Linked DNA regions of Homo sapiens: all the other regions are linked to region 3. The links come from fine-mapping of genetic effects on gene expression. A gene starts in region 3. Each other region holds a variant in brackets. All regions are shown on one strand. Distances are between the middles of the regions. Region 1 holds the start of LOC105370457 (a long non-coding RNA gene). Region 2 overlaps LINC00639 (long intergenic non-protein coding RNA 639). Region 3 holds the start of LINC00639 (long intergenic non-protein coding RNA 639). Region 4 overlaps LINC00639 (long intergenic non-protein coding RNA 639). Region 5 overlaps LINC00639 (long intergenic non-protein coding RNA 639). Region 6 overlaps LINC00639 (long intergenic non-protein coding RNA 639).

Region 1 (4,128 bases), 38 kb before region 3:
CAAAACCAAGTCAGGGCCGGGCGCGGTGGCTCAAGCCTGTAATCCCAGCACTTTGGGAGGCCGAGGCAAGAGGATCACGAGGTCAGGAGATCGAGACCATCCTGGCTAACACGGTGAAACCCCGTCTCTACTAAAAATACAAAAAATTAGCCAGGTGTGGTGGCAGGAGCCTGTAGTCCCAGCTACTCAGAAGGCAGAAGGCTGAGGCAGGAGAATGGCGTGAACCCAGGAGGCGGAGCTTGCAGTGAGCAGAGATCGCGCCACTGCACTCCAGCCTGGGCGACACAGTGAGACTCCGTCTCAAAAAAAAAAAAAAAAAAAACAAAAAAAAACCAAGTCAGAGCTGACCCCTGAAGGCCATGCCTGCTCAGACTTGCCCTTTCTCATGCTCCCTCTCCCTGGAAATGCTCCACCATCCACCCAGTAGCTCCAGGCTGCAATCTGAGCATCATCTGATTCTGTTCTTTCTCCACCGTCCATACCTAATCCATGCCAAGCCCTGCCTGTGCCCTATAAGAAGATCCTCATGTTGCCTTTCAATTCTAAAGTCTCGGCTTCTTAGAGCTGGCATTCAAAAGAATTAGCACATTTCAAAACCCTCTACTAAAGTGTATCTTAGAGATTATTTATAAATGAAGGGTTTGATCACAACTATAAAAATATTAATAGTTTAAAGGCAAAGAATATTCCTAAGAACACTCAGTGTTACTAAGTTTTAAAAAAGAGATACATGGTAAAATAAGTTTGGAAAATGCTAGATTAAACAGAATTAAGGTTTTCACTGTTGTCATTGCTGTTTTAACTCCAGACTTCTCAGAGTTTTTGAACAATCCTCATGAATCCATAAGAGGAACATGACCCGTGTGTCACATATTCACCACCCTCTGGTTTATTCTATCAAAAGGGGCCCAGAGCCAACTTCATTCTTATCTGGGCCACCCTCAATTTCCCTAAGGACTGCCATTCATTTTATATCTTGTTTTCATCTGGAACTCCTGAACTCCTGTTCCTTTTCACATGACATTCCTCTTCTTCTTGGCATCAGCTGTAGGGTAAATGTGAAGTTTACCACATATCCTTAACTGCTCTTTATTTCCCACAAGAGCACCAAACAAGTTTTCATAAAAATATCAGACTTTCCCAAGGGCTTGGAGAGGCAAGGAGCATTACGTCATAGCAATTCAAACACCTTAGAACCGAAGATTAGATATCTCCATTCTTAAAAATCCTCTCCTCCTCTCCACCAGAAACCTCTGATTGGCCACCATTGTCCATTTATTCCAGAGTACTGACAGATTGCCTAATCTCTCTCCTTCTTACTCCCTTCCCTCTCTTCTCTACTCTTCTTGGCTTTTCTCCTCTCTCAAACTATACAGTATTTACTTTCAATGCATATCAGATTGACTATTTATTTGATTCCTTCTTCTTTTTCAATCCAGCCAATCTACTCCCAACTGCTTACCAAGTCATTTTTCTAAACAAAGCACTTCCTTCAATAGAAAAACTGCAAGATATGGCTTCAGCTACCAACCTAAAATAATTCAGCATCTTATAGTCAGCAATTGAGTTCTTTTGAAGGGAAGTGTCTTTGCTTAGAAAACTTTGATTGTGACATCCCTTTATTTCAGAACATATTCTAGAATTTCTGTTTCATAGAATTCTTCTTGAATCACAAATTTAAAAAAAAGACAAGACAGAAACAAATTGACATCTCAGGGTAGGTGAATGTTGGGAAGTGGATGTAAAGAAAAATCAACCTGCTGCTTATATAATTGTCATGCAACCCAGGACCTCATGCCATGCCCTTACCCATCCCTGTGGGTACAGGAGTTGTCTCAACAATGATCAGACCAGCAATCTGATAGCAAAAAATACCCTACTGATTCTCCTCTTTTCTCCCACCTCATCCTCATGCACACACATGCATACAAATGCATACACCTTCCCAGGTTTTTCCCACAGGGCTCTCTGGAAGTCTGCTCAGCAGTGTCTTAAACTCCTGCATTACAGCAGGTTGTTGCCTGAGGTCCCAGAATCACTCAGGTCTGGATGGACCACAGCCCAGTGTGCTCAATGCCACTGTGTTCCAGAATATGTTGCTGAGACATCACTCAAGCCACCACGAACTCCGCTGCACCTCTCCTATCCGTTGGAGTTGTTGCTGGCCATGTTGTTACCCTCCCCAAATCACCCACTTTGACTCTGA[C/T]TGAGCATCAGTCAGCACTACAGCTTCTGCCCCTTGTACTTCCTCCTCTCTGCCAGTGCTCAGCTTCTCCTCAAGGTTCTGATATACCTCCCTCTTCTCAACATTGCCTGTTCTTAAAGGAGCCCCTAAGCAGACCTGCTTTTTTCAGCTGCTATGAACCTTTTGGGATTTTATGCTGAAAATTCTCTCTTCCCAGAGGCATGTGTGCCACCAGGATGGCTAGTCCCATGGTCATTTTCTCAGGGCTGCTATAGAGCAGAGAAACAATTCATGGGCCAAATCTAGCCTGCCACTTGAGTTTGTAAAGTTTTATTGAAAAACAGCCACACCAATTCACCTACACATTGTCTAGGGTTGCTTTCTACTGCAATGGTGGAGGTGAATAGGGTGACAGATAAAGACCTTGTAGCCCACAAAGCTTAACATATTTACTTTTTGGTCCTTTTCAGTAAGTATGTTGATCTCTGCTATAGATGAAACAACAGAACTGTATGATTCCTCAATTTAGCCAGCATAATTTGAGGAGCATCCCCTTGGTGCACACAGACCCAGTAATCTTATCTGGAAAACTAACAGGATAAATGAATCAAAGGATAAAACACTATTCTAACACATGCCCGGGACACTATAGGCCATTCTGATCATGAAAATTAAATAAACAAATAAAGCAAATTTTTTTTGGGAGGGAGTCTCGCTCTTGTTGCCCAGGCTGGAGTGCAATGGCACCATCTCAGCTCACTGCAACCCCTGCCTCCTGGGTTCAAGCATTTCTCCTGCCTCAGCCTCCCGAGTAGCTGGAATTACAGGCACCCACCACCACACCCAGCTAATTTTTGTATTTTTAGTAGAAACAGAGTTTCACCATGTTGGCCAGGCTGGTCTCTAACTCTTGACCTCAGGTGATCCACCCACCGCAGCCTCCCAAAGTGCTGGGATTACAGGTGTGAGCCACTGCACCTGGCCAAAACAGGTAAAAATTTAAAACTGAATGGGAATAATAACCCCAGGATAAAGATCCCGACTATCTGTGGGTAAAGGGAAAAGAACATGTTCAGGGACGGGTAGAGAGGATTTCAACTGTATTTATAACAAAGGTTTCTTAGATTGAATGGTAAGTACAAATGGATTCATTTCTTTCCCTATGTTACATATCTTCCAGATCTATTCCCCCTTTCTCTGTCCTGCTCTGAGCCACAGGAGGCTGGCTATTTGACCTCACCAAAGGGCTCTTTTGCCTCCTGTTTTCTGACTGGGTCCAGCAAATAGACAACTGCAGCAGGACAGGGAAGAAAGACAGGGTATTTATTCCCCCAACTTCCTGCACACTGAATGTGACCCTTGAATGAAAGCCACAGCTCTTAGCAGGAGACCGCCACACAGCCATCTCTGACTCCAGTAACTGCTTCCTCCCCAACTCCTTGAATTAGCCATCTATTGCTACATAACAAGTGACCCCCAAGAACTGCAGCTTAAAACAGAAATCTTTTATTATCTCAAAGTTCCTGGGTGCTTCTTCCTCAAGGTCTCTCGAAAAACTGTAATCAGGGTATTACCTGGAGCTGTATTTTCACCTGGCTCAACTGAGGGAAGATCCACTTCCAACTCACTCATATGGTGTTGACAGGATTCATTTCCTCACAGATTGTTGGACTGAAGCATCCCTCAGTTTCTTCTCATGAAGGCCTTGATATAAAGCAGCTCCAATCTTGGCAGCTGGGTTCCCTCAGAGCAAGCAAGACAACCAGACAGAAGCCATTGTTGTTTTGTAATCTAATCTCAGAAGTGACATCCTATTACTTTTAGCGTGTTCTGTTTATTAGAAGCATATGACTATGTTCAGCCTACACTCAAGAGGGAGGAAGTACCCAAGGGCATGAACACCACACTCACTGGGTGGTGGGAATCCTAGAGATGGTTTATCA
Region 2 (4,128 bases), 43 kb before region 3:
GGCAACAGAGTGAGACCCCATCTCAAAAAAACAAAAAGGAAAAGATTTTAGAATATCAAATATCTTTTATCTCCTAAGTTAGATGCACAGACTAGCTTTTACTCACAAACAAGGATGAATACACTCTACCCATGCATCTGTGGCAACCAGACACTATAGTTCCAAGGTAGAATTATTACATAAAGTTGAATTTCTTTTTTCCTAAGCTGCTTGGGGTTGTAAGTAGAACAAAAACCTATATTCTGAATTTAGAAACTGGAAAAGCAGGTATGCTAAAATACAGAACATGATGGACAGCATAGCATTAATCTTGTTTTTGGACTTATTTCCCTCATGGAAAATTTCTTCACAAAGAGAGATTTACTGAGGGAGAGTCCAGTCCCCATTGTGCTATAAGAAATTCAGGAGCTTAGATAGAGGCCGTGTAACAAAGTTAGGATATTTGGTTGTGATGCAGGGCAGGGGGTTTAGGAGATCTAAAAATCATATTAAAAATTTAAAACACTTTGATTTATCATATATTTGATATATGATTTATCAAATTAGCAAAACATTTACTTTTAATAATGCTTGAAGCTAATACTGCAGCTACAGTAGTTATGAATAATTTAAATTTGAATTTACATGTTTAATCATTTCTGTCTTAAAAAATAGCAAAATGCAATGTTAGGTTGACTGTTTCTCTGATTTCCATGTAAATTACCAGGGTTAATAAATTTGCTTGTCACTTAACAGAGTCTAGAATTATTCAATTACTAAGTATTTCTTCCTATGTTTTTGTATTTCTCTTATAAGGTCTTCTGGAAGAAAAACTCTGTAGTAATATAATACCTGGCTCTTTTGACATATTGGAGTAAAGATTACATTTTTAAATCTAATAAAAAACAGATTATTTAAACAAAAATTAAACCTTGAATCCAACTATCTTATTTCAAATGTTTGTTTTCTTTACTTTTACTGTTAATAACATCATCTTAGAAGCTTAATAAATTTTCCTTTGTGTTTTGCTCAGTGCATTTGACATATTTGTTTTAGGTAAGATCTCTTTCAATTTAGTTGAGATTCCTGTTCTCTAAAGGAAATGGGCCAGGGAAAGGTGAGAGGGGAGTAACAGAGCTGTCTGAGGAATTGTAGAACTTGAGATGATAAAACAACAGGTGGTCAATGAGTTTTATAAACCTATACCTGAGTACAGACAAGAAAAGCTGTGCTCTAGAAGAAGACAAGCCCAGAGGTCATCAGCAAGTTGTGCTGTCTCAAGAGCTCTGTGTCAAGGCGGAAAATGTTCTCAGATACCAAGAAGCTGACCCAAGCCAAAGACCACACTTAGACCAAACTTTTATGACACATGGGCTTCATCCTGTTACTATACTTTTCCCCTCACTTTTCCATGAGGTACCACCAACATGTTCTCTTATTCACTTATGTATTCATTTAGCACATGCCTGTTGAGCATGAAGTGTGTGCAAAGCACTGGGCCATGCACTAACGCCATAGGCATGGCTAGCCCAATGCCTGCACCTTGAGCCCCTTATGGAAGTCAGCAACCTGCACATGCTCAGACCCCTACCCACACCAGGAAAAAGCACACTGTCTCCCTCCAAGTGTCAACATCAAACAAAAAAATTCCACAGAAACCACTTAAAATCAGAAGACAAAGTTGAAGCCGTATATGTTGAAGTTGTCATTAGACTTGCTGCCTGTTTCTCTTTAGCAGTTTAACCTTCATTCTGGTAATCAATCCTTTTTTTATTTATTTCAATATCATGGTGCCTGGACTAGGACTTATATTTTCATAGCTAATTACAAATATACACATATTTCCTTAAAGGTATATAAAATTATTATCTTGGCCTAGATAAGTTTAAAACCCTTTATGCTTAAATTCCCCTATGGTTCACTGGAAGTGCTGTAGCCAGTGTCCTCAAGGTAGTGAAGAACCATGATC[G/A]GCCAGAGTAGATGCAGGAGATAACATGTGCAATGATGAAAACATCTTTGTTTCCTTACCCTGCACCAGGCTTCGTGCCGTGTGCTGGGGCTAGAAAGATAGATTTGACCACAGGATGAAAATAATCACAAGTTAAATTCCTGCCTCAAGTTTCTCATGCTTTCTCAAAGCACACAGACACATCAATGCTAACCATGCAATCAAATGGACATATAAAGATACATATGAACTGGATACTGCAAAACGGAAGCATTACAAAATTGATCTGAAAACAGGAGAGGGGTCAGAGAGAGTTTCACAAAGTAGGCGACAACTGACTCAAATCCCATCAGACAAGTGGGAGCTTTCTAGATAAAAAGAGTGGAAAGGCATTCAAAGCAGCGAAATAGCCTATTGCATTTGGAGAATTGGGGAGCAGTTTGATGTGGCTACAATAAAGATGTGGCAAGGGATCAGGCTGAAAGGTAAGCAGAGATAAGATCCCAATGAGCTTTGAATTCACCACTAAGGATAAGCTTGAGTTTGGGGTTGGAGAATTACATAATTAATTTGGGTATGAAGCTAGAGGTATAAATTGGGAGTCTTTGATTTATGGGTTGAATTTGAAAGTGCAATACATTATATAGAGCTTGTGAGTCAGAAGAGAGGCTGAGAATCTAACTCTTTTGAGCACCATCATTTAAGAAGCAGGAAGAGAAATAAGAGTCCACAGAGGAGTTTTTAAATGAGCAGCCAGAAAACAAGAAGAAAATCGTAAATGAGGAAGAAGGCACAAAAAGGGAGTTTTGAGAAGGAAGTCTCTAGCAGTGCAGTGAAGAGGTCAAGTAAGATGAAAACATAAGATTCCAATAGACTCACCAAGCAGATGATCCCGGGTAGAACAGGAGAGAAGTCAGATTGCAGGAAGCTAAGATAGAAATAACAGATGAAGGAGTGAAGACAATTCAGCCTTGCCTCATAAAGAAACATAAGGCTAGAGAGGACCCAGGAGCCATGAGGTTTTGTTCTGAAGATAAATGAAACTTAAGCATTACACCAGGGGAGAGGAAGAAGTTCAAAATATGAGACTTAAAGAAGGTCACTGCAGAATTGAAGTGTCAAAGGCAGTAAGAGCAGACAGGACTGCAATGTCAGCAGAACATTGGACTCTAAGAAAAAGAGACGAAAAGAAAAACAGGTGCAGTTGAAGACTATTCTAAAAAAAAATCAGTGTTAAGTGAACAGTGTTTATTCCTCCTAGGTCTGGTGAGAAGAAAGGTCTAGGGTAAGAGACATTAGGAAAGTCATAAAAGTTGGAACAACTTGGCATAGGAGATAGCAAAGGAAGTTCAACAAAGGCACTTTGGAGGATCACTGGGTGGTTTTGAGGGTCTACTTAGGATTAGAGATCCTACCTTTTTCTAATGACATTAATCCACAATGCTCTGGGTTTCCAAGAATAAAAGGAGAGATGAATTGATCCGGGTTTGGGCATCGCATGGCAAATGGGCAAGAGAGTTGAAGGTGCTAGCAAGAGAAGCTTAAAAGATGTAGGTGGAAAAGGGAAGGAAATTAATCTAGCTGATGTATGTTACTCAGAAGGCAAAGGGAAATGTCAAGGAACTAGAAGTCTTCACAAATTCAAAGACCAAAGAGGATGAAACTTAGAAAGTGAGACAACTGTTAAAGACAAAAAGCAGTAGTTCAGAAATAGATGAGTTCCTAGTTCCTAGTGGTGACCAGATCCAAGGTGTGAGCATGAAAGTGAGTTCTGGGAGCAGAGTGAAGGTATAGATATTGGCATTGAGATAAATGAACTCCAAGCTACTGATTGTGCATACCAACTGTATGTTTCTCAGGGCTTTATTTATTAGATGCCAAGCATAACACCTCTAACAACCCTATGAGATAGAAACTATTATTTTCATCATCCTCATTTTACAGATGAAGAAACTGAGACACAGAAAGATGAAGCAACTTGCCTAAAGTCACACAGCTATACTAGAAGGACTAGGGATTTAAGCCCAGGCAGTCTGGCTCCAGAATTCTTGCTCCCAACACTACACTACACAACTTTCCCCAGAATGGCACAGTAGCATCTTGGAGCTATAAGCAGCATGGCTCAAATCAGGAGATTTTTGTAGGAAGGTGGAAGATGAATGATCACCTAAAATGTAACTTAATGCCCTCCCTAATATCTG
Region 3 (4,128 bases):
GCATGACAGAGCAAGACTCCATCTCAAAAAAAAGAAAAGAAAGAAAGAAATTAATTCACTGAAAACCACACAGCTACATGGAAATTGAACAACCTGCTCCTGAAGGACTTCTGGGTAAACAATGAAATGAAGGCAGAAATCAAGAAGTTCTTTGAAACTAACAAGAACAAAGATACAATGTACCAGAATATCTGGGACACAGCTAAGGCAGTATTAAGAGGGAAATTTATAGTGCTAAATGCCCACATCAAAAAGTTAGAAAGATCTCAAGTTAACAACCTAACATCACCACTAAAAGAACTAGAGAACCAAGGCCAAGCAAATCCCAAAGCCAGCAGAAGAGAAGCAATAACCAGAATCAGAGCTGAACTGAAGGAGATAGAGACATGAAAAACTATTCAAAAGATCAATGAATCCAGGAGCTAGTTTTTGGAAAAAATTAATAAAATAGATAGACCACTAGTTAAACTAATAAAGAAGAAAAGAGAGAAGATTCAAATAAACACAGTCAGAAATGACAAAGAGGATATTACCACTGAACTCACAGAAATACAAACAACCATCAGAGAATATTATGGACACCTCTATGCACATAAACTTGAAAATATAGAAGAAATGAATAAATTCATGGACACACACACCCTTCCTAGAAAAAAGGGATAAATTCCCGGACACACATACCCTCCCAAGACTGAACCAAGAAGAAATTGAATCCCTGAGTAGACCAATAACAAGTTCTGAAATTGAGGTGGTAATAAATAGCCTACCAATCAAAAAAAGCCCAGGTCCAGACAAGTTCACAGCTGAATTCTAGCAGATGTACAAAGAAGAGCTGATACAAAGGCTAGACACAGTGGCCCACACCTGTAATCCCAGCATTTTGGGAAACCAAGGTGGACAGATCACTTGAGCTCAGGAGTTTGTGACCATCCTGGGCAACATGGCAAAACCCCATCTCTACAAATAATACAAAAAATTAGTAGAGCATGGTTGTGTATGCCTATAGTCTCAACTACTTGGGGGGGCCAGGCAGGAGTTTGTGACCAGACTGGTTGACAAAGTGAGACACTGTCTCAAAAAAAAAAAAAAAGAAGAAGAAGAAGAAGAAAGAAAAAGAAGAGCTGGTACCATTTCCATACATCTTCTGAAGTCTAGGCAGGGGGTCTCAAACCTCAGTTCTTGACTTCTGGGCACCCACAGGCTCAAGACCACATGGAAGCTACCAAGGCTTGGTGCTTCCACCCTTTGAAGCAACAGCCCAAGCTGTACCATGGCCCCTTTTAGTCAGGGCTGGAGTGGCTGGGACACAGGGCACCAAGTCCCTAGACTGCACACAGCACAGGGACCATGGGGCTGGCCCACGAGAGCATTTTCTCCTAGGCCTCTGGGCCTGTAATGGGAGGGGCCGCCATGAAGACCTCTGATATGCCTTGGAGACATTTTTCCCATTGTCTTGGGGATTAACATTTGGCTCCTCATTACTTATGCAAATTTCTACAGCCAGCTTCAATTTCTCCTCAGGAAACCGGTTTTCTTTTTCTATCAAATTATCAGGTTGCAAATTTCCCGAATTTTTATGCTCTGCTTCCCTTATAAAACTGAATGCCTTTAACAGCACACAAGTCACCTCTTGAATGCTTTGCTGCTTAGAAATTTCTTCAGTCAGATACCCTAAATCATCTCTCTCAAGTTCAAAGTTCCACAGATTTCTTGGGCAGGGGCAAAATACCACCAGTCTCTTTGCCAAAACATAACAAGAGTCACCTTTGTTCCAGTTCCCAACAAGTTCCTCATCTCTATCTGAAACAGCCTCGGCCAAGACCTTATTGTCCATATTGCTATCAGGCTTTTGGTCAAAGCCATTCAACAAGTCTCTAAGAAGTTCCAAACCTTCCCACATTTTCCTGTCTTTTTCTGAGCCCTCCAAACCATTCCAGCCTCTGCCTGTTACCGAGTTCCAAAGTCACTTCCACATTTTCAGGTATCTTTTCAGCAGCACACCACTCTACTGCTACCAATTTACTCTATTAGTCCATTTTCTTGCTGCTGATAAAGACATACACAAGACTGGGCAATTTACAAAAGAAAGAGGTTTATTGGACTTACAGTTCCACATAGCTGGGGAGGCTTCACAATTATGGCAGAAGGCAAGGAGCAGCAAATCACATCTTACATGGATGGCAGCAGGCAAAAAAAAAAAAATGACCCTGTTCAGGAAAATTCCTGTTTTTAAAACTGTCAAATCTCGTAAGACCCATCACTATCATGAGAACAGTATGGGAAATACCCACCCCCATGATTTGATTATCTCCCACTGGGTCCCTCCCACAATACATGGGAATTATAGGAGCTATAAGATGAGATTTGGGTGGAGGCACAGAGACAAACCATATCACATGGAATCAACCTATATGTCCACCAACAGTAGACTGGATGAAGAAAATGTGATCAATATACACCATGGAATACTATGCAGTAATAAAAAAGAAAGAGATATGTCCTTTGCAAGAACACAGATGGAACTGGAGGCCACTATCCTTAGCAAACTAATACAGGAACAGAAAACCAAATACTGCCTGTTCTCATTTATAAGTGGGAGCTAAATGATGAGAACACATGGACACACAGAGAGGAACAACACACACTGGGGCCTTTCAGAGGCTGGAGGGTGGGAGAAGGAAGACAATCAGGAAAAATAACTAATAATTAAATAACTAATGGGTATTAGGCTTAAGATCTGGGTGACAAAATCTGTACAACAAACTCCCATGACACAAGTTTACCTATGTAACAAACCTGCATTTATACCCCTGGACTTAAAATAAAACTTTTAAAAAATAAACAAATGATAATAGCAGATTATAGCCCATTAAATAAACTAGGAATTCATGAGTTCAAATTACATAAACAAACAAATAATTATTCCTTACATAAGAATGCTAATTACTGTATGCAGAAGGAAAGGTAGAATTGGAAGGTCATTATTTGGCAACTATTATAGTAGTAGTTGATTGAAGAAGAAAGCATCAAATGATGCTGAATCTGAGTGAAGGTTTGATGACAACCAACATGGTCTCAAATTATCTCCCCACAAAGTGCTGTTAACTGCAAAGGGGAGATGAGTTACTTTGCAGTCATAAATGTTGTATCACTGGGCACAGTGGCTCATGCTTATAATCCTAGCATGTGGGAAGCTGAGGTAGGCTATTTTCTTTTAGTAATTTCATGGCTTGTGGTCTTAGATTTAAGTCTTTAATCAATTTTAATTTGACTTTTGTATATGGCAAGAGATAGGGGTCTAGTTTCATTCTTCTGCCTATGGATATCCAGTTTTCCAAGCCCCACTTATTGAAGAGACTGCCTTTTCTCCAACATATATTCTCGGTACCTTTGTTGAAAACAAGTTTACTGTAGATGTATGAGTTTGTTTCTGGGTTCTCTATTGTGTTTCATTAGTCTATGTGTCTGTTTTTATGCCAGTACTATGCTGTTTTGGTTACTGTAGCCCTGTAGTATAATGTAAATGACAAGTTAACCAGTGCAGCACACCAACATGGCACATGTATACATATGTAACAAACCTGCACATTGTGCACATGTACCCTAGAACTTAAAGTATAACAAAAAAAAAGAAAAGAAAAGAAAGGAACAGAGGAAAAGGAGGAAGGAAGGAAGGAAGAAAGGAAGGAAGGAAAAGAGGGAGGGAGGGAGGTTGTATTAAAATGAGAAAATTGATTAGTTCACAAATTATGCATTAAAAGGCCCACAGTTTACTAGATCTATAAATTCCTCAGAACCCCTAAATACATTGGCTTTTTAGAATAAGTGTTAAATACACACACACACACGAACACACACAACCCACAATACAACTGATGTGGCCTTGTGGAAGGAATACGTAAAGCTATTTGCATTATAGTGCTAATTTAGCTTTTCTTTACATTGAACCTTAATAACCAGAATCTGCTTCTTTGTAACTTCTGTCCATTTATCCAGTTTCCACCCAAGGAGAGAGAGCAAGTCTCATTGCTCAACTATTCTAAATCTGCCACCACGATCCCCTAAATCTTTTCCAGGCTGAACACTCCAGATTTCTTCTACTCTTCCTTAACTGATAGGACTTTAGTT
Region 4 (4,128 bases), 140 kb before region 3:
CACTGCTCTCCTATAATGTGACTTGATCCAGGGGTAACATTTATTGAGAGAAATAGATAGATTGCCTGTCCCTCTATGAATATTATTCCCCTAAGTGAGCTTTAGGAAAGAGTTGAGCAGCAGGGAACTCAAGGTTAATGTTTCTGTCAGGAACCTAAAAAGTAGATTGACTATGTGGTTGATTAAGACTAGAAAAAAGTATATGCATTTATTCCTACACAACAATGTTGCAGGTAGTTACCCATTGTTCCTTGAAGGCTTTTTTTCCAATGTCCTTTACATTTTCCTAATGGTATCAACTCCACCTTTCTCCTTAGCACATTGGACTCTCCCTGTAAACAAGGTGCTTCTTCTCTGAGCTAGAGCAGATAGCCAGACAAAGATGGGACAGAGGAAAGAGATTGCTGAGCAGAGAGATGGTGTGGATGAAGGTTTAGTGGTGAAAGCAAGCAAGCCTCTATGAGGCTACGCATGACAGTCACTGGTCTAGAGCAGAATTCGAATTGGGAACCAGAGAGAAAAAAGCTGGAGATGTACGCAGAAGCCAGAGATCAGGGAGGAGCTTGTTAAAAAAGATATTGGTCAGCATCTACTTGACTAATTAGGAGCATTGATGGTCCCAGCCTCAACCTGACTCTATGTTCCCTGTGCCATTCTGATATGAATCCTGTCATTTCTTGGTATTTGACCTTGACTTCTTTTTCAAAGGCCTGGTGTTATTTTCAGTGATACTGTCTCTATCACTTCTGGGCAAATACTTCTGACTAGGTCCTGCCTGGCACCCTCCTCCTCCAGCATTTCTGTCTCAGCAAGTGGCAACCAGCAAAACTGGCACCAGATAACAGGAGATAACTGAACATTTATCAAAACATATGAAAAAGATGTGTTACTGAAAAAGTAATGTCCAGAGTTTACTGTTCCTCTCTCTTGTGTGTATGTTTTTTTAAGTCTTCAGTGGAAATGACTGAATCTTTATTAGAATCAAACCTTAGTTATCTCCTGGAGGAGTATTCATTTTGCATGAAAGGACCAGAAGTATTCCCCGGCTTTTCATGTGTTGAATGTGTACAGCTCACTTGGAGCTGGAAGGGCACACAACTTGAGAAATCTGCCTTCTCTTTAAATATCCAGATCTAACCACAAAGAAAACATTTAAAATAAAAATAGGCACTCCCATCTTCTCCTTCCCAAACCATATACACTAAACAATCGGAGAATCGAGGGCAAAAGTAAAGCTCAGTATAAGCAAAATAGAGCTTCACACTGTGGAGGAGGAGTTGCATAAGCAAAGGGAAGAATTAGAAAATGAGACAATTTTCCATGTTCTTCTGAGTTCTCCTAATGACTTTATGATTGTATTAGAACCATTATAAAGCCCAAAATAGCTCATAACACAAGTGCACAAAATGGAGATTCAGTCGGGTATGTTTCCTTTATATTATCCACAATATTCCTTCCCTTAATTTCCATGGCTAATGGAGACTGGTCTAGGCTTTTATGATATTGTGCCTCTATCACTAGGGGATACTACTATAAAAGAAAAAGTTTAAAGGTGAGATTAAAAATGAGAAGCAACATAATAAACATTATCTATTCTAGAAGACTAGTAATATTCCAAAATTTGAAAGGTTTCCCAAAGATTACAGCAACTATCAGACACAGTGCCAATGAAAACAAGCAAATTGCTATGTATTCAGGGTGTATACAAATCATGACATCCTCAGAGGAAATTACATGGAAGCCTGAATAATAACACATAAAGCTAAGAGAAATTTGAGTCTCTGACACACATATCTCCTCTCTTTATATTTCACCAAAGTTGTACTTGTGAAAAAACTTGGGAAAAAAGTAAAATGATGAATTGAAAAAAAATGATCGGCATAATTCCTGATCTAAAATACGTATTTCCCTGCAATACCTAGACAATTCAAGTAAATGGGTGGGTGGATGGGGGTTCTTTTTGGTGTAAATTACCTGCATAAATGCCTTAACACTCTACTTCAAAGTGGATAGGTAGACTAAGCCTTCATATGCATGATACAGTAAGATGATGAATTTCCTTAATTGACAATATCAGGAAAAGAAGAGTGACCTAGAAGTGTATGCCCGTCCTGTGCCATCTAGATTTCATTCCCAAGTGCTTGGCTACCCTAACTGCCTATAATGCTTCCAAGTCCTTGTCTCTCTTCCCCACTTATTCCCTTTGAATATGTATGTATAATAAGGGCTAGGACAAGAACCCTACTCTGAACACTAAGTATCAGTTATACCTGCTGTAACCTGCTGTTCTTCATGTAGCCCCTGAGCTTGTCTACAACAACAAAGTACATCAAATTGCATTCATATATGTGTTAAAAGATAAAGTTAGACACATTCAAATATTGAAGAGTCTATTTATGAAAACAGTGATACATGAATCATACAGCACCAGACTACAAGCAGCTCTGGAAAGGATTTCACAGGGTAAATGCAGAAGCAAGGCAAAGAGTACATTCCAGCAGGAAGTTCCAGGTGAGAAGTTAGTTGGCTGTTTCTGATTGGCCTAGATAATGACCAGTT[G/A]CACTGATTTAAGTTTTGGTTTGCTTACCTAGGATCCCAGGACACTGGAACCACCTCAGTCCAATGCCTTCCCAATTAATGATCCTAAGATAAGTAACATCAGTGAATTGAAAATAAAGCAACTTTCCAGGACAACCTTATATTGTAGGAGGAAGGAAGACTAGAGAGGGGCATAAGTGGAGAGCAAGGGCTGAAATTATACCTAGAAGACCCTTGAGATGGGTCCCCTAGATCAGTGGTCCCCAACCTTTTTTGGAACCAGGGACCAGTTTTGTAGAAGACAATTTTCCCACAGACAGTAGACACAGGGGATGGTTTGAGGATGACACTTGTACCTCAGATCATCAGGCATTAGATTCCCATAAGGAACATGCAACCTACATCCTTCCCACGCACAGTTCACAATAGGGTTGGCACTCCTATAAGAACTAATGGCTCTGCTGATCTGACAGGAGGCAGAGCTAAGGACATAATGCTTGCTTGCCTGCTGCTCACCTCCTGCTGTGTGGCCTGGCTCCTAACAGGCCACAAACTGGTACTGGTCCATGGCCAGGGGTTGGGGACACCTGCCCAAGATGGTAACCTAGAAATGACAGATATGACAGAAGACCACACTGGGCAGCCTGCCCAACACTTACCAAAACAAACTGATATAAACAGAAATAAATGAAATAGAAACTAGAAAAACAATAAAAAAGATTAATGAAACTAAGAGTTGGTTTTCTGATAAACCACACAAAATTGACAAACCCTTAGCTAAACTAAGAAAAATGAGAGAAGACTCAAATAAAGTCAGAAATGAAAGGGAGACATTACAACTGACAGCACAGAAATCCAAAGATCATAACTGCTATGAATAATTATATGCCAACAAACTGAAAAACCTAGAAGAAACTGATAAATTTTTAAAAACATATAACCTACCAAGACTGAACAATAAAGCAATTAGAAATCTGAACAGATCAATACAAATAAGGAGGTTGAATTAGTAATTAAAAGTCTCCCATAAGGGGACTTCCAGTTCCAAAATGGCAACACAGAAGCAAGCTGGCTTCACTTTTTCCCACAGAAAACAGAAAACAAATATGCAGTGCTGAGATGATCACCAGCAATAGTCTAGAACTCATATATGAAGATGAGACAGATCCTAGGGCCACAGGGAAGTGAAAAAACTCCAAGCAGGTGACAGGAAAATTAATCTTCCATATCCACAACACCCCTTCCTCCATTCTGCCTAGCACCAAGCATGTGGGAAATTTTTCACCAACTCACAGTTTCTACACTAGAAAAAGTGAGATCGATGTGGACAACCAGCTTGCCCATCATCTTAAATTCCCTGGCAAGAAAACTGTCTCTGCCTTAACCCACAGGAAGATCATGAGTGTGTGAAGGGAGTAACATCCCTGAGGACAGGCAGAGGATGCAGCAGTGGGGGGAATACCACCTTCAGCCCTGAAAACTCTACTCTGTATCTCGGCCAGAGCAAATGCCAAATCAGAGTGGCTGTATGGCAGCAGCATGCTGTAGAAAGTGTGTTCCACAGGTCTGCTGAGCACCAACACCAAGACA
Region 5 (4,128 bases), 33 kb before region 3:
AACTCTTCTCCATCTAAGTATAATTGACCAAGCCAGAGTGGAGGCAACTCATTTCTGGGATATCCATCCATTAGATAAGAGATGCAGACATAATAGCCAAGAAATAAGTCTAAAATGCATGGAAGTTTTTATCCTTAGTTATTGAATGAGTTACGTATTTCCTAATTTTCTGCTGAGCCTAGAGAAGAAAATGACCAATCACTTTGGAAAGATATTGATGTTTATGAAGTATAGCCTCTGAATATCTCAAATGGAAAGGAAAGACTATATTTAAACCAAGGAAAAAATTTTACATGAGTACAATTTTATTGCTAGGGACTAACTTTCATATATAATGATTGCTTACACATAAAAATTCATCTATGACATTAAATACCAACTATATAATTCAATTAACTTTATTTTTCCCTTATAATTATCTGAAAAATTTATTCTTTTACAGTGAACAAATTCTTCCCACTCTTCTGAGCAACCATCTCAAAATATAGTAAGTACTGGCCATTTAAATAAAATAAAATTCCCTAAGTAAGCTCATCATTGGTAGTGATGACTCACTACTCTGTTTATAAGTAGGTTATAGTTGAGTAAACACTGTCAACACAAATAAATCACCTCAGACCATTATGTTGAGAAGATCATGGTTGTATTAACTGGTTTTCATGTATGCCTCATTACTTCTTTTTCTGGATTATTCATTGAGAGGGAGCACTATCTATTTAATTTTTTTAATGTCATGGAAGTAAAAGATGTGTGATGGGCACAAAAACTCTCCTGTGAATGTTAATGTTAACTTTCACTTGATTGAAAAACTGCAGTGTAATTTTTACCTGAAAAGAAACTTTGCCTTGAGTATAATACCTTCAAATTATGTAGAGCTTTTGTCCCTTAGAGTTCACATCTCCTCAATACCTAGAGAGAGATAACTGAGCTACAGAATAATAAGCTGATATATTTGAAAGAAAATGCTGGTACATTTTATTTAATCAAAAGATTTTTAAAATGACATTATCAGCTCTTTCAGACAAAAAAATGACTTCTTTGAAATTGGACATCAAACAAAAATTATACAGTGAAATTCCATTATAACTAGATAATTTTTTTAAATATCCACTCCTTCACCGAACATATATTGGCTCACCAAATATTTACTGAGCCCAACTATCATGGGCTAGGCACTGTGCCAGGTACTGGGAATACACAGATAGAGGACATAGTCTCTAGCCTCATGATACTTAGAGTCTATAGAGAAAAAGGTAAATAGATTACTAAAATATTGAGAAATAAGGACTCTAATAAAGGTGTACATTCCGCGATAGTCTCTCATTACTGTTGTAATGGAGTTGTGTTGTAGTCTTTTTTCTTTTTTTTGAGAGTCTCCCTCTGTCGCCTAGGCTGGAATGCAGTGGAACAATCCCAGCTCACTGCAACTTCAGCCTCCCGGGTTCAAGCAATTCTCTTTCTCAGCCTCCCGAGTAGCTGGGATTACAGGTTCCCACCACCACGCCCAGCTAATTTTCGTATCTTTAGTAGAGACAGGGTTTCACCATTTTGGCCAGGCTGGGTCTTGAACTACTGACCTCATGATCCACCTGCCTCAGCCTCTGTAGTCTCTTTTAACAAGAGCTAAGACATTTCTTTAAAACTCTTTTGGTAATGATCTTACCTTGGAGGTGCGGAAAGAAAAGGTATCAGTCTATGTTTGGGGGATTTTCTTATATACCATTAATACCCTTGTTTGAAAGAAACAATATGCTGATGTCCTAAAAATCTGATGAGAGAACACTGAACTGATGAGCAAAACTTGACAAAAATAAAGTTTTGATAACCAAACTCTACCTCCTCAAGCAATTAGAAAGAAATGAATCAATAGGAGATAAGCCCACTCCATTCTACCCTGCAGCTCAGTGTTAACAACAGCCTTGAAGTTAGAGGACCAGTGAGGAGTTTATGAGTGTGTGCATGGAGGAGGGGAATGGGGATCTCTGTGAAGTCTGAGTCCCAGTCACAGAGACATTAAATCTCTCCCATTCAGAACACCTCTAATCTTTTCTCCTCTAACACCCCTACATTGGAATTTTCAAG[G/A]TGTGGGACAGAGATTACACAGCCAAGTCAGCCTCCTCTCAGCTGCTTTCATTCTGTGAGAGAAAAGGCCCCAGCTGACCCTGAAAGTTTATAGTCCTGATCAGGATGGGCAAACAAGAGGTGGATCTGTCCACAACACCAAGTCAATCAGTTGTTTCATGCCTTTGTCAAGGAGCTGGTGGAAAGACTGCTGAAATTGGTCAAAATACATAAATATTTAGGTTGGTGCAGAAGTAATTGTGGTTTTTGCCATTACTTTTAATAAATTACTAATAAATTAGTAACCCCTTAGAAAAAACTTGACCAGAAGTCATTCTACAATAGGCACTTACCACATTGCAAATGTATTCCTGTTACAGGGTAGGGACTGTTATAAACTGAAGGTTTGTGCCCTCTCCCCAAAAAAATTCATATATTGAAATCCTAACCCCCAAAGTGATGGTATTAGGAGGTGGGGTCTTTGGGGCATAAATAGGTCATGTAGGTGGAGCTCTCCTGAATGGGATCAGCCTTATAAAAGGAACCCTATAGAGGTCTCCATGCTCTTTCTGCTACATGAGAATACAACAAAAAGATGGCAGTCTGCAACCTGGAAGAGGGCCTTCACCAGAAGGGGACCGTCTTGGCACCCTGATCTCAGACTTCCAGCCTTCAGAACTGTGAAAAATAAATTTCTTGTTGTTTATAGGCCACCCATTCTATGGTACTTTGTTATAGAAGCTCAAACTAACACAGGGGCCAAGTCTTTTCATCATTATGTCCCCAGTGTCTGGTACCAGTTTGTTTTCCACTACATGAGATGCTTCAGAACTTGATCGTGTTGAAATGACTGAATGAGTGAATGGTTCCCTAAGGGATTTATACTAAAGTCAAATATTGGCTTCTGGTTTCCTTATTTTATTTTTAAGCATAGGTATATAAGACAAGTGAAATAAAGACCAACTTCACTCTTTCAGCAGAAATGGGACAGGCTAGAATCCCTTCTGACCCAACTAGCCATGCTATCCTGAAATGACCTCAGGTTTCCTGTACACTTCTCTAAGTGGTGAAACATGCTCAGCATCTACCAGGTCCCAGATCCCATGAATGACATTAATTGTTTCCATAAGGTTTATTCAAAAAGGGGAGTGGAAACTGGGATTCTTCTCTTTACTACTGGCATGTTATAATGAATATGAATTATATGAATAAGTGGCAAGGTATGGCTCTCGGCATACTCTAATGGTCTACTACAAAATCAATAGGAATATGGCCAGAATGTGACAACATGGAAAATAATAAACTTCTAATTGACTCAGTTTTTTCACCTTTGCCCTGAGAACCATGATGAGCCATGAAATCCCAGAGTGCCCACGCATCACTGCAAATGCTACTGGACCAGGGCATCTTATTCTTTTTTTTATTTCCTCCCCTGTCTTCTAACCCCAACTCCATCCTAGGACCTAAGACAGTTTCCAGAGCACAGTAAATTTCAAATATTGTTCAGATGACTGGCATTTCTTCATAGCTAATATGTTATGGGGGAAATAATATCCTTAGAAATCCTCGTACATTGAAAATCTCAACAGGCCAAGAAGTGATAATTCAGATGAAGTCTACACTGAAAAACCACAATAGAGAGAACCAAACATCTCATTATCTGAAAGTAACTGCTTGAGTCTGCTATAAATGTATTTTTGTAGGGTTTCCTTAAAACTTTACTGCATGACATTTTAAAATTGAAAATAAAGCTATTTTAAATCATTGAAATTCAACTGCCCACTTGCTCAAAGAAGATATTTATACAGTTATTTGTTTCTCCAATAGGAATAACTGGCTCACTGCATGCAGTATTCAATTCTTTTGATGATATTTCAGTTTCCAAGTATACCTAAAAAGTAGAATGATCTGGCATTTTATTGAATTCTTTGATTCTATATAGGCTCATATGAGTATCACCTTTTTTTTTCTGTACTATAGATATCATTCATATTCGCCAAGGTAAGAAATTGGGTTAACCCTAGTTCACTTTTTTCTTCAAAAGTGATGTCTTTTAAATATCGGGAC
Region 6 (4,128 bases), 88 kb before region 3:
TAAATACAATGTTTTGTGAAAACAGGTAAGTTTTATGTTTGTGGATTAACCAGGCTGGTTTTTAAATTGTACTCTACAGATCAGAAGCGATCAGTGAGAACCTCTCTTTCTACATGTAGTGCTGCCGCTGGGAAGAAATCGGTCATCATGAATATTCATTGGACACCACCAAGTGCTACACCAGACTGAGATGGAGAAGGAGAAAGAGAAATGGTCCATCAAATTAGAAGAAAAGCCCTTTTCATGATTTATGAAAAAGAGAACTATTAAACCTTATGCACTACAAGATTTTATGTCTTTTATGTCAACCTATGAATAACTTTTCCTCTGCAATATTCCAATTTTATTTTCCCTTTAATAATACAACTTTTAAGTACTAAGGATACATAAGATACTTTGTATTAATGATGCTTAGTCAGTCATGGATGCCTGACTTATTAAGGAATACTCAAAATATTCAAATATTTATGTTAGTAAATCTGCTTCAGACTACAAGGAAGAGTTGCTATCTGACTGCTTATGCAATGCTGCTCTGTCCACTACCTTCCTGTCTTTTTTTAAATTAGGTTCTATTGCCCAACTTGCCTGTTTTAAACATTTAGCCAATGTCCTTGAAGTGTTTTCATCATTATCAAGTAAAAATCTGAAAATGAGAATAGTATTAGTATCTACAGCTCTCTATTTTTGTCTTTAACTTATCATGCACCTATTTTGTGCTATTATATATATTCAGTATCTTGCATATAACCTTATTTAAAGAGTATAGCATCATTGTAAAGCAGATACATTAAGGTGTCTGTTTTACAGATGAAGAAATCGAGGTTCAGCAAGGACTTGCTCAAAGTCACACAACTGGCAAGTGACAGAGACTGGATATGAACTGAGTCAGACTCCAAATTTTGACTCAAAAAAGACACTACCTTTGTGCTCTATAAAGTGCATTCATTAGGGCCTTTATCATGCCAGTCTGTCAGCAATTGTGTTCCCCCTGGCTCGGAGCCTTTCCTCCACACTTCAATCAAATAGAAATCCCTCATTGCAGTTGAGAACTAAGTGGAGTTACTGGCCCAAAGCATTCAGGTTAGCTCTATGGATAGTTTCCAAGTTGACCAAATCGTAACTGACCTGTTGAGAGACACAGGTGATTCAGGAGATAATTTTTTTCATACTATACTGGGAGGTGAATGGTAAAAAATACCATAGGATGAGGGAAACAAGGGGAAAATGAACAAAAACGATATCCATTATAACTACATAAAAAGAAACTGGCACACCAAACATCAGTGTTATTATGAAGAACTATTCACCATCTGAATCTGACCACAGTTAGAAAACCTGCCACATCACAAGCGCCTTGGATAATAAAAACATCTATTTCAAATGTTTTCCTAAAAAGCATTTTGAAAGAATAAATAAGATTTCAAAATAGAAAAAAAAATCTAACTGCATAAACTGAACACAATGCTGAATGCTATCCTCATCCAAACTGTCTTTCCTTTATCTTACTTATCACCTTCAATATACAATAAAAGTTCAGCCACAAAATCAGCTTAGAAAGGAGAATTACCTGGCCTAACTGCATAGATTGATTTGATAGTGAGATACTTTCCTGCAAAGACATTTATGTGTTATCTGGAAGAACTTTTAGCTCTTCATTTTAAGTTTTACCAGCGATTGATTTATTATAGGAAAAAGATTCAATTTTTCCTCTTATGCTCAGCAATGTGATTTTTTTAAGAAACAACAAGGCGAGCATGAGAGTTCGTGTCTGTAATCCCAGCACTTTGGGAGGCTGAAGTGGGTGAACCACTTGAGCCCAGGAGTTAAAGATCAGCTTGGGCAACATGGTGAAACCCCATCTCTACAAAACACTTAGCTAGGGGTGGTGGCACATGCCTGTCATCCCAGCTACTTGAGAGGCTGAGGTGAGAGGATCATCTGAGCCCAGAAGATCAAGGCTGCAGTGAGCCATGATTGTGCCACTGCACTCCAGCCTGGGTGACAGAGATAAGAGCCTGTCTCAAAAGAAAAAAGACAGGTTCAGTTCAAATAGGAAATCAGCATCTGTGGTTTCAGCTGGATTTCCCAAGTTACAGGGTTCACCTTCTGAATATGCTGCTATTCTTCCTCTTTTT[G/GAC]ACGTTTCTGCACTTCCTAAGATCTCTAGCCCATAATCTTGCTCTAGAGACTACCATCTTTGAAACCTAACTCTCTCGTACTCTTACATACATTTTTGGTTTAGATGCTCATTGCCTAACTCTCAAACTAGAACTCTTGTTCTTCTTGAGCAAGAAATCTTTTCCTTCCTATTTACTTTTGTTTTTCCAAAAGCTGGCACAAAATTAGCACTTAAAAATAACTTTTGGCTAGCTGACTATTTCAAGAGTTCCAAATGACTTGGACGGAGACACAATTTTAAGTCATCAAAGGTCCATGACAACATATAAACATTGGACTGTTTCAAGATGGAGGTCTGACTGGTGGTTTTTCTTCCCTTTTTTGGTGCAATAGAATTTATATATTTAAACATTAGGTCAGTTACCTAAAATAAGTTAAACATTAGACCAGTAACCTAGAAAGAAAACTTGTTTTGAGGTTGCTAGTAATTTGGGTTCCAAGTTTAATGAGCCAATAAATCAAATGCTAAAGAACAAGATGATTGAATTTGAGAAGACAGTAGAAATAAGGATGTACCCCTTAGAGAAACAAAGAGTTCCCCTAGATAAACAGAAGAAATGGACAAGGAGCAATAGAAATGGGGCAGTGAGTACAAGGCAACCTACAAAGTCTGGAAGTAGTCCTTAGGAAGTTGTTCAAGGAAGGTAAAGGGCCACAGCCTGATAGGAGTTGAAAGAGTAACTGACAAAGGACCATTAAGCCCAGAAGCTGACTAGAAAGTGAGTTGCTCAGGCAGAATGCCCAGCCCTTACTCTCAGCAAGAATGTCCCATTTTGTGTGCCCAGCAATGACACCAATTGTTCTTATTGACCTACATGCTCAGAACTTCACTTCGTTATCATCCAGCACCTCAACCACTGATTGCCCTGTGTGGACTATTTTCCTTAAACCTCATCAGCTTGTGCTAATGTACTCCAAGAAAGGGAGGTGGGACTGTGGACATCTGGTGGGTAAGGAAAATTATCAGCATATCTGGCAGGTAGGAAGAATTATTGGTACATCTGTACTGTGTGGGATGAAATGAACAAAGGGTGGTAAGATCCCTACTCTACTGGCATCAAAAACAGTTGAACCATCTATTCTCAAGTGTGGAATCCTTGAGGCTTTCAATGTAACAATGTCTTTGCAACTTCCTAGTGAGGCTACTCATCAAACATGGTAGTTTAAATATACCTGCTTTATTCTATTCCATCCTAAAATATCACCAGAATAATAACAGAATAGTAAAGGGGATAACAACAGATAAGAGATATTATAATTTTGGAAGACAGAAAGTAGATGGGCCAGTGTTAACTAGCAAAGCAGAGGAAATGAAACCTAAGTGCGTGGAACTGGGAAGCCACTATACAAGGAAGCTAGTTGGTGCTCCAGAATCCCAGGAAGCATGAGGAATTTGAGAAACTGCTTACTACAGAGGGTGAAGGGTGAAGAGTGGGACTAAAAACAAGAGTGTGGCTGAAAACCTATATAGAGGACAGTTATCTTCCCACCCTTTCACCCACCCCATCCAGCCAGAAAACTTCTCATACACTATTTCATCAGGAAAGGAGAGGTTTACTCTAGATAATTAAACCATCGATCTCCTTCTCCCTATCAACTTGTAAAATACTAGAAGTCGGAAAATTGGGGAATTCTTTTCTGGAGAGCTTGATCAGCTCAAGGGAAAAGAACTAATATTGAGAGCTGGGTGTCTTCTCCCACATAAACTACTAGATCTTTGCCCAATCAATAAGCCCAGCCAGATTTTAGTGTCTCAGTCAGATTCTTAGTGCCTCACTCTTTAAATACAAACAGTAAGCCAAGCATGTTAGCCTTTTGAGGAAAGCTTCAACATGAAAGACCTAAACAAACAAACAAAAATTTTAACAAAAACAGAACTCAGCAAAGAAAAGCAATATGGAGAGAAGCAGCAGTCATTTGTAATAAATAACCTCACAGGAATTAAGAGAGCAT

Evidence for each region.
Region 1: its variant is fine-mapped to the expression of LINC00639 in whole blood (TOPMed, PIP above 0.99).
Region 2: its variant is fine-mapped to the expression of LINC00639 in whole blood (TOPMed, PIP above 0.99).
Region 4: its variant is fine-mapped to the expression of LINC00639 in whole blood (INTERVAL, PIP 0.92).
Region 5: its variant is fine-mapped to the expression of LINC00639 in whole blood (TOPMed, PIP 0.91).
Region 6: its variant is fine-mapped to the expression of LINC00639 in whole blood (TOPMed, PIP above 0.99).

The regions. Positions count from the first base shown.
Region 1 is chr14:38,877,025-38,881,152 of GRCh38, forward strand. All of the region lies in intron 2 of LINC00639 (long intergenic non-protein coding RNA 639), which reads right to left. It overlaps LOC105370457 (a long non-coding RNA gene), which reads left to right and starts at 1,706. Exons shown (of 5, transcript NR_135256.1): 1 at 1,706-1,717. The variant C/T (reference allele first, on the strand shown) is at 2,207.
Region 2 is chr14:38,871,365-38,875,492 of GRCh38, forward strand. The region is part of intron 2 of LINC00639 (long intergenic non-protein coding RNA 639); the gene reads right to left. Among named protein-coding and RNA genes, the nearest start is that of LINC00639, 43 kb to the right of the region's middle. The variant G/A (reference allele first, on the strand shown) is at 1,949.
Region 3 is chr14:38,914,676-38,918,803 of GRCh38, forward strand. It overlaps LINC00639 (long intergenic non-protein coding RNA 639), which reads right to left and starts at 2,207. Exons shown (of 5, transcript NR_039982.1): 1 at 2,107-2,207. The region is part of intron 4 of LOC105370457 (a long non-coding RNA gene); the gene reads left to right.
Region 4 is chr14:38,774,501-38,778,628 of GRCh38, forward strand. All of the region lies in intron 4 of LINC00639 (long intergenic non-protein coding RNA 639), which reads right to left. Among named protein-coding and RNA genes, the nearest start is that of LINC00639, 140 kb to the right of the region's middle. The variant G/A (reference allele first, on the strand shown) is at 2,560.
Region 5 is chr14:38,882,154-38,886,281 of GRCh38, forward strand. All of the region lies in intron 2 of LINC00639 (long intergenic non-protein coding RNA 639), which reads right to left. It overlaps LOC105370457 (a long non-coding RNA gene), which reads left to right. Exons shown (of 5, transcript NR_135256.1): 2 at 443-487. Among named protein-coding and RNA genes, the nearest start is that of LINC00639, 33 kb to the right of the region's middle. The variant G/A (reference allele first, on the strand shown) is at 2,083.
Region 6 is chr14:38,826,549-38,830,676 of GRCh38, forward strand. All of the region lies in intron 4 of LINC00639 (long intergenic non-protein coding RNA 639), which reads right to left. Among named protein-coding and RNA genes, the nearest start is that of LINC00639, 88 kb to the right of the region's middle. The variant G/GAC (reference allele first, on the strand shown) is at 2,136.